Homo sapiens: one gene and its partner. The protein of the gene in region 2 purifies or fractionates together with the protein of the main gene of each other region. This does not show direct contact. Each region holds a gene or a part of one and is shown on either strand. Other genes may lie near its edges.

The links.
Region 1: the proteins of VSX1 (region 2) and USP12 purify together in Homo sapiens (affinity purification with mass spectrometry; 4 studies listed by BioGRID and IntAct, with this or other methods). This does not show direct contact.

What each region holds. Positions count from the first base shown.
Region 1 is NC_000013.11:27,095,312-27,098,811, forward strand, and holds part of USP12 (ubiquitin carboxyl-terminal hydrolase 12), read right to left. Parts: intron 520-3,500; coding exon 290-519; intron 1-289. UniProt on the Homo sapiens protein: Deubiquitinating enzyme that plays various roles in the regulation of the immune response and inflammation.
Region 2 is NC_000020.11:25,079,342-25,083,270, forward strand, and holds the start of VSX1 (visual system homeobox 1), read right to left. Parts: upstream 2,801-3,929; 5' UTR 2,756-2,800; coding exon 2,332-2,755; intron 1,991-2,331; exon of another isoform or gene 1,927-1,990; intron 174-1,926; coding exon 95-173; intron 1-94. UniProt on the Homo sapiens protein: Binds to the 37-bp core of the locus control region (LCR) of the red/green visual pigment gene cluster. May regulate the activity of the LCR and the cone opsin genes at earlier stages of development. Dispensable in early retinal development.

The DNA.
Region 1 (3,500 bases), on a different chromosome or scaffold from region 2:
TCATAAGACATAATTTCCACAACATGGTTCTATGGCCTCCTAAACTGAAAGAAAATCAAACAGTTCAAGCTACAGTAAGTATCTTTCTATCACCTCAGGTATTCATTGTCAATAAGCAACATTACATTAAGAATACAGACAGATTCCTTTTAACTGAAAAATACATCTTTAACTCCTATACCTAAGAATTACAACTTTCAAGTTCATCTTCCATTCTGTCTTTCTCAAAGAACAACCTTTAACATAGTAATTCAATTTTTCTCTATACAAAATTGTATGATATACTTACAGTTTCACAAGTAAGACATCTGGTTTCATTAGTTAATGTTCCCTGAAAAATCTCATGAACCCACGTTGGGTCTGGTGTGCTGTTATTATTTTCATTATCAATATTACCATTAGGTAAACGACCATTTTGTTTTTCCTGCTTTCTCTCTTCTTGTAAAATATCAGCAATTGTATTTAGTAGGTAATTTAAGAATTCATGGGCATCTTGTTGCATGTAGTTGTCAAAAAGCTCTGAAAATAAAAACATTATATTAGAGAATTATTTCAGAATTCATAACTTCATAAAAAACCAATTTATAAAAGAATATCTAGTATTGGATCAGAACTAAAATATAAATGCACAATGTTTTTGTAATGTATAACAAATAACTTTCGCATCTAAAACTTTTATCTGTATTTGGGGAAAATGTAAAATTAATTAAAATCTTGTTTAAAAATACTACTAATTGATCCTGAGAAAAGGGCAAAACCTATCCTTATATATTGGCATAACAGATACTGAGAATTTAAGAAGAAATTGCTTATTAGCTTACCTGACTTATTATTTCACAAATATTTCAACTTGGCAAGCTTTAAAGCAGAAGTTGGACAACCATTTGCCAATGCCAAGCCAACTGCTTTAGACCCACAAAGTTTATCAAAAATAAATTACTGAACCATACATCCCAGGGATTCTGATTTAGTTGATAAGGGGTAAGCCCAGAACGTGGGGCTTTTCAAAGCTCCTCCAACTAACTCTGATGTAGAGTCAGGTTTAAGAATCATGTTATCAAGAATTATCTATATAATCCAGATAATCTCAAGTCCCTTCCAAATGTGAGACTTTATAATTCCACAAAACGTTCCCTGCAGTTACACAAATGAGTAAATATAACTGAAATATTGGTGGTGCTAACATCAAGCGTGCTTTACCCTGTGCTTGGCAATATACAACTCTACCATAGAACAGTAAGGACTTTAGAGGCAGTATCTCATTTGATCCCCAACAACCATGTAATATTGTTATTAACTTTATTTGTAAACATGAAAATGGGACGAGACAGAGTACAGTCACACTGCCAAGAAATGGCAGAGCCAGGATTCAAACTGGGCAGCCTGACTCCACCATGCCACACACAAAGTAATGCCCAGTATAAGCCCACACACAAGAACATACATGAATTGGTCAATAAAATGCATTGAGAAAAATTACCTATTTAGGACATTTTATTTTTAGATCCTCAATGTACATTTAATAAGTTCCAGAAAGATTTTACATTTTAAAAATGAATGCATACAAATTTAGAAAAAAATTTAGGGAAAGTCTAAGATAAAACAAATTAACAATTACATTTTAGAAGAGATACAGATATGACTACATAAAATTAAGTTCTATGTATTAGAAATCTTTAAAAAAGTTTTAAAAAAAGTGAAACCTGAAAATTATTAACATTTTCAACATATAAAAGCAAATCTCATATAAAAGAAAACCAAACTGGACAATCTTATAAATGGCAATCAATTTATAAGAAAAAAACAATCAAAAGGCTAAAAAACATGAGAAAATGTTCAATCCCATAGTAAGTTTAAAAAAAAAAAAAAAGCAGGCCAAGCGCAGTGGCTCATGCCTATAATCCAGCACTCTGGGAGGCCAAGGCAGGTGGATCACCTGAGGTAAAGAGTTTGAGACCAGCCTGGCCAACATGGTGAAAGTCCGTCTCTACTAAATACAAAAAATTCACTGGGCATGGTGGCACATGCCTGTAATCCCAGCTACTTGGGAAGCTGAGGCAGAAGAATCGCTTGAACCCGGGAGGTAGAGGTTGCAGTGAGCCGAGATTGCGCCATTGCACTCCAGCCTGGGCAACAAGAGCAAAACTCCATCTCAAAAACAACAACAACAAAACAGAATACCATCTTTCTTTGCAAAGTCATTGTAAAAACAGAAAGGGAATGAGTGAAGCTTTTTATGGGGGTAGGAGGGCACAGCTGCTAGAGCAAGGCTGTCTGGGTTGGTGCTATGGTTCTACTTCTAACTGCACGCGTGGCATAGGCAACTTATTCAAGCTCCCTGTTCCATAATTCCTCATCTGAAAAATGGGGCTCACAGCAGTACCTGTACCTCACAAGGCTGGGAGGAAGATTAAAAGTGCTTAGAATACAACAATAGGTTTTGTATTCTGTTCAACAACAACCACAGTAACAATATTGGCAATATCACTACATGTTGAATATCCTTTATCTAAAATGCTTGGGACCAGCAGTGGTTGGGACTTCAGACTGCTTCAGATTTGAGAATATTTTCATACACATAATGAGATATTTTGGGGATGTGACTCAAATCTAAACATGAAATTCATTTGTTTCATATACACCTTATAGCCTGGAGGTAACTTTATATAGTACTTTTTTTTTTTTTTTTTTGAGATGGAGTTTTGCTCTTGTTGCCCAGGATGGAGTGCAACTTCATATAGTATTTTTAAAAACTTTGTGCAGGGAAGTAAATTTGTGTACACTGAACCATCAGAAAGTAAAGTTGTTACTACCTCAGCCACCCCATGTGGCATCATGCAGCTCAAAAAGTTTCAGATTTCTGGATTACGGATGCTCAACCTATATAATTGTTGTTGCTACTGAACAGAATACAAAACACATCAAAGACTGACTATGTAAAAACTATGAACTTCTGTATGGCAAAGTCAACATAAATGAAGACAAGTGACGAACAAGGATAATTATTTGCATATTAATATCCAGACTATGTAAAGGTTTAATATACAGAATATTTAAAAAAAAACCCTTTACAAAACAAGAAAAAAAATTTTAAAAACTGGCAAAGGAAAATAGCCAATTCAGAGTAGAAATACAAATGCCTAAATAATACATGACAAGGGACTGGGAAATAACAATTAAAACAATGACAAAATATCATTTTGCCCATCACTTTGGCAAAATAAAAATTGACTTAGTTTCCATCCAGTGTTAGCTTGAGTATGGAGAAATGGACATTCTCAACTGTTGCTGCTGGGAGTATAAACTGGTATGGCACGTTGTAAAGGCAATTTTGGTAACAGATTTAAAATAATGCAACCTAGTTCTCCCAGGTATCGATGCCAGGTAAGTATCTGTGCATGTACCAAAACAAGCATAAATACGGCTGCTTATTTATAACAGCAGAAGTCTGAAAATATCCTAAATGTTTATCAACAGGAGAATGATTTATTTAAATTATG
Region 2 (3,929 bases):
TCATGCCGGGCCATAAATTCTCAGATGCAGGTGCCATAAACCTTGGGCTGTGTCCCGAGGAAAGGCAGGCAGAGGGGACTGCCTGGCCCTATACCTGTGCCGCCGCTTCTTCCTCTTGCCCAAGGTGGGGGATGCCTTTAGGTCATTCCTGTCTTCAGACTGGCTGTCCTCATCTGATGGCACAGAAAGAAGAAGAGGACTTTAAGGGTGATCATATCCCCTCTATTTCCTGGATTTTAATGTGAGGATTGAAGTTATGAACCTCTTGGGTACTTAAGTAGTTTACAGTATGAGCCAGCATTTTTAGTGCCTACTAGATCCCAGGCTCTGTGCTTAACACTGTCCATACATTATCTCAAGTATTCTTAATATAATAATAAAACACCAAAATGGCTGCTGCTATTATTATCATCCTATTTTTACAGATGAGGAAACTGAGGCACCGAATGGTTAAGTAATTTGCCCAAAATCACACAGGTAGTAAATGGTGAAGTTGAGAATTCAAATCCCAGATTATCTGAAGCCAAAACTACTCAGCCACTGATTGCACTTTCTATCCCCACACTGCTTCCAAACACATCCACCCCTATGCCCCCAGCCTCATCATCTTAACCTCTACACCAACATTTCCCAAAGGAAGTCTGGGGCTTGTGACATCAGAACCCTCGTCAGAACTGCAACCCTTCCCTGATGCACCAAATCAGAATCTCTGGAGGTGGGATCTAGGAGGCTCATTCTTGACAAGTGTGCTCAGATGATGTGTAGTTGCCCTTGAAAATTTGAGAACCACTCCACTGTGCTTTACCTTTTTATATCCAATACATCAAAAAGTCTAGATGGAAAAGAAGGTTAGAAGGCCAAACTATTGTGAGATTCATTGCTAGAAGGCATAATTGCCTCAAAATATCTTTAAAATGAATAAAGGCAAAAATAACTAAATAATACTAGTTTTACTCATCCATCAATTAGTTCACCAGAAACCTGGCTTGGATTAAAACATTCTGTATTGGGCTGTCCAACCTGATGAGACATGAGACACATAAGGTTATTAAGCACATGAAATGTGGCCAGTAAGATCAAGACATGCTGTAAACATAAATCACTTAATGGAGTTAGAAGACTTAGTGCTCCTAAAAAGTAAAATATTTTTGTATTGATTATGTGTAAAATGATAATATTTGCTATCATTGTTGGGTTAAAATATAGTATTTAGATTCATTTCACTTTTAATGTGACTGTGAGAAATTTCCGTCAAACATGAAATCACATTTCATTTTTCTTGGACAGCTCTGCTCCAGACTTTCAGAAATGCTGGCAGAGTTGGATTTAGCTGCCTTTGGTTTTGTAAGAAAGAACCCATCCCATGAAAACAGTTTTGCATTTTTAGTGACACTAATAGGGAGTTTCATTTTATCTTACGTAGAGCTCATGAAATAAAGTCCTTTTAGAGTGGAGCAAAAACCTGCCTGCCTATTGATCTGACATGCTTCCTTTTAGTATCAGAAGACCCAGTCTACTCTTTTTGCCTTGGCTGCCTGGATGCTCAGCTCTAGATTCTACCACATACCATCCTTTCTTGTGTAATTCTTTCTTTTCTCTCCCACACCCAAAACCACTCGTTTCCTTAGCCCTTGTCCTTTATAGAATTTCATTGCTTCCTTCTCTTTCCCCGCGACCCGTCTGGATTTCTTTGGGGAAATGGGTAGGCCAGGAACACATCTCTAGGCGTAACTACAATGAATCCCCAAGGTTGCTTCTTTCTCCTGCACAGGGGACTGGGAGGACGCTGCGCCGGCAGAGGAGCGCGGTACCCGGGACTCCCTTTTCAGCACCCCAAGGGGCGGACAGTTCCAGGGCTCGAGGCCCCGTACTCTTCCAGGACCCGTCAATCATTCGATCATTTCCGCCCGCGTTTCCACCTGGTACCTTGTTCGGTGCTGCTGGTGACCACCACAGGCCCGGGCCTTCCCGACCCACGCAGCTGCCAGAGGCGGAGACTGGCGCCTGGCGCTGGGGGGAAAAATGGCCCTCTGGAGATGGTTGTTGAAGACCCCAGGGTCTCATCAAAAGGTTCCACCCGGAACCAGGTGGTGGCGGTCTCACATCGCTGAGGGAACAGGACCCCGGATGAGAGGCAGGGATTTAGGATGCAGCAAGGGGCAGGCGGCGCAGCTCCGCGAATGCCCCTCCCGCGACGGGGCCTCGCTCTGGGCTCCCCGCCTAGATCTGGGCCGCTGGGGCCAGGGGTGCGGTGGGGCGATGGTCTGTGACCCCTGCGCGGCTCAGAGCCTAGGGGACAGGGGCAGGAGCGGAAAGCGCGGGCCTGATTACCGGACGTGGAGACGCTGTCGCTGCGCTTCTGGCGGCCGAGCGCAGGCGGCGGACGGCTGGGAGCCAGCGGGGCAGCGGGCTCGGGGCCCCTGGGCGGCAGGAACGGCACGTCCGCTAGGAGCAGGCAGGGTGCTCGAGCGGCCGCCGGCGGCTGCGTGCCGAAGCCACAGAGGAGGCCGAGTCCCAGCGGTAGGGCCCCACGCGCCAGGCTGGAGCCGTCAAGCCCCGGGCCCGGGCACGGCGCGACTGCCGGACCCTCGCAGCCAGATCCCTGTCCTGGGCCAGCGGGCGCCGGCAGCTCGGCCTCCAAGCCCAGCAGGTCCGTGATGGCGAAGCCCCGGGGGCGCGAGCCCCTAGGGGAACCGCCAGGCACCAGCGCCCTGCTGCTAGTGCGCCCGTCGGAAAGCGAGTCCCGGCCGGTCATGGTTCCTTAGCAAGCAAGGCGCGAGCCTCTCTGGATCCCGTTTGCGGAGGGCCCAGCTTAGAGGAAGCTTTATAGGATTGGGCTGCCGGTCGGGCGCGGGAGGCCTGAAGGGCTCCAATCAGCTGGGCGCGGGCGCGTCGCCGTTCCGGACCCCGCGAGATGGGGACGCCACCAGTTCCCCTCCCCTCGGTTACCGCCCACCCAGCTGCAGTCCCCTCAGTCACCTCCTTCTCCTCCTCTCTTCTGTCCAGCCCACCCCACCCCACCCCACCCCCATTCTAGGAGGGAGGGGAGGAAAGAAGGTAAGGGACAGTGACTCCGCTGTCTGCCTGTCCCTCGAAAAGTCGCAAGTTCTACATCCTGGCGTGGCCTTCTCCTTCCTTCCAGACTCTCTGGGTGGAGGCCCCACTCCCAGCTGCCCTGAAGCTTCTTTGATGCGACCCAACTGCCTATTAAGACCTAGGACCCCATTCCCAACCACACCCCGATGGCTACCCCATATATGTCCCCAGCCAGCCCTCCACCTCCGCCGCCGGTGCCACGAAGGCCTTCCTGTAAGAAGGCCTTCTCTGAAAATCCCCAAGGGGAAAGGAATGAAAACCGTGTATTTAATCCATGGTCATCCTACCTCCATCCCTTTAATCCATGGTCATTCTACCTCCATCCAAATCCACCCCCAGGTCCATCCCCAACACTCCACGGGCTGAACTGTAGGGGGTGGCAGACTCACAAGAGCTGGGGAAAGGGAGAGAAGCAGAGAGAGGAGTGGACTGCCCGGGGCTGAGACGGGCAGGGTACCAGGTTTAACCAACAAAACACTGTCGGCTCAGTGAAATGTGATTTCAGATAAAAAAGGAGGGCTTTTTTTTTTTGTAGGAGTATGTATCAGTATTTTATCCAGCAACCCTAAATTGGGGAGGAGTGGAGGGAGGTAAATTGAAATAAAATAGAGTCTGTCTACTGGAAAGCACACCTTTTCATCGGGGCTTACAATTTATTGTCCAATTTCACGATTATTCAAAGAAAGCCTGATTCTTTGAATAATCAGTGAAACTCTGATATTCGCTAAAGTTGGCCCCAAGCACGTGGGTAAGTAACTACTGGTTCGCGCTTTGAACCCAACCAGCCCTCATCGCTCGGAGCCCTGCGTCCCCCGCTTCCCAATCCCAGAACC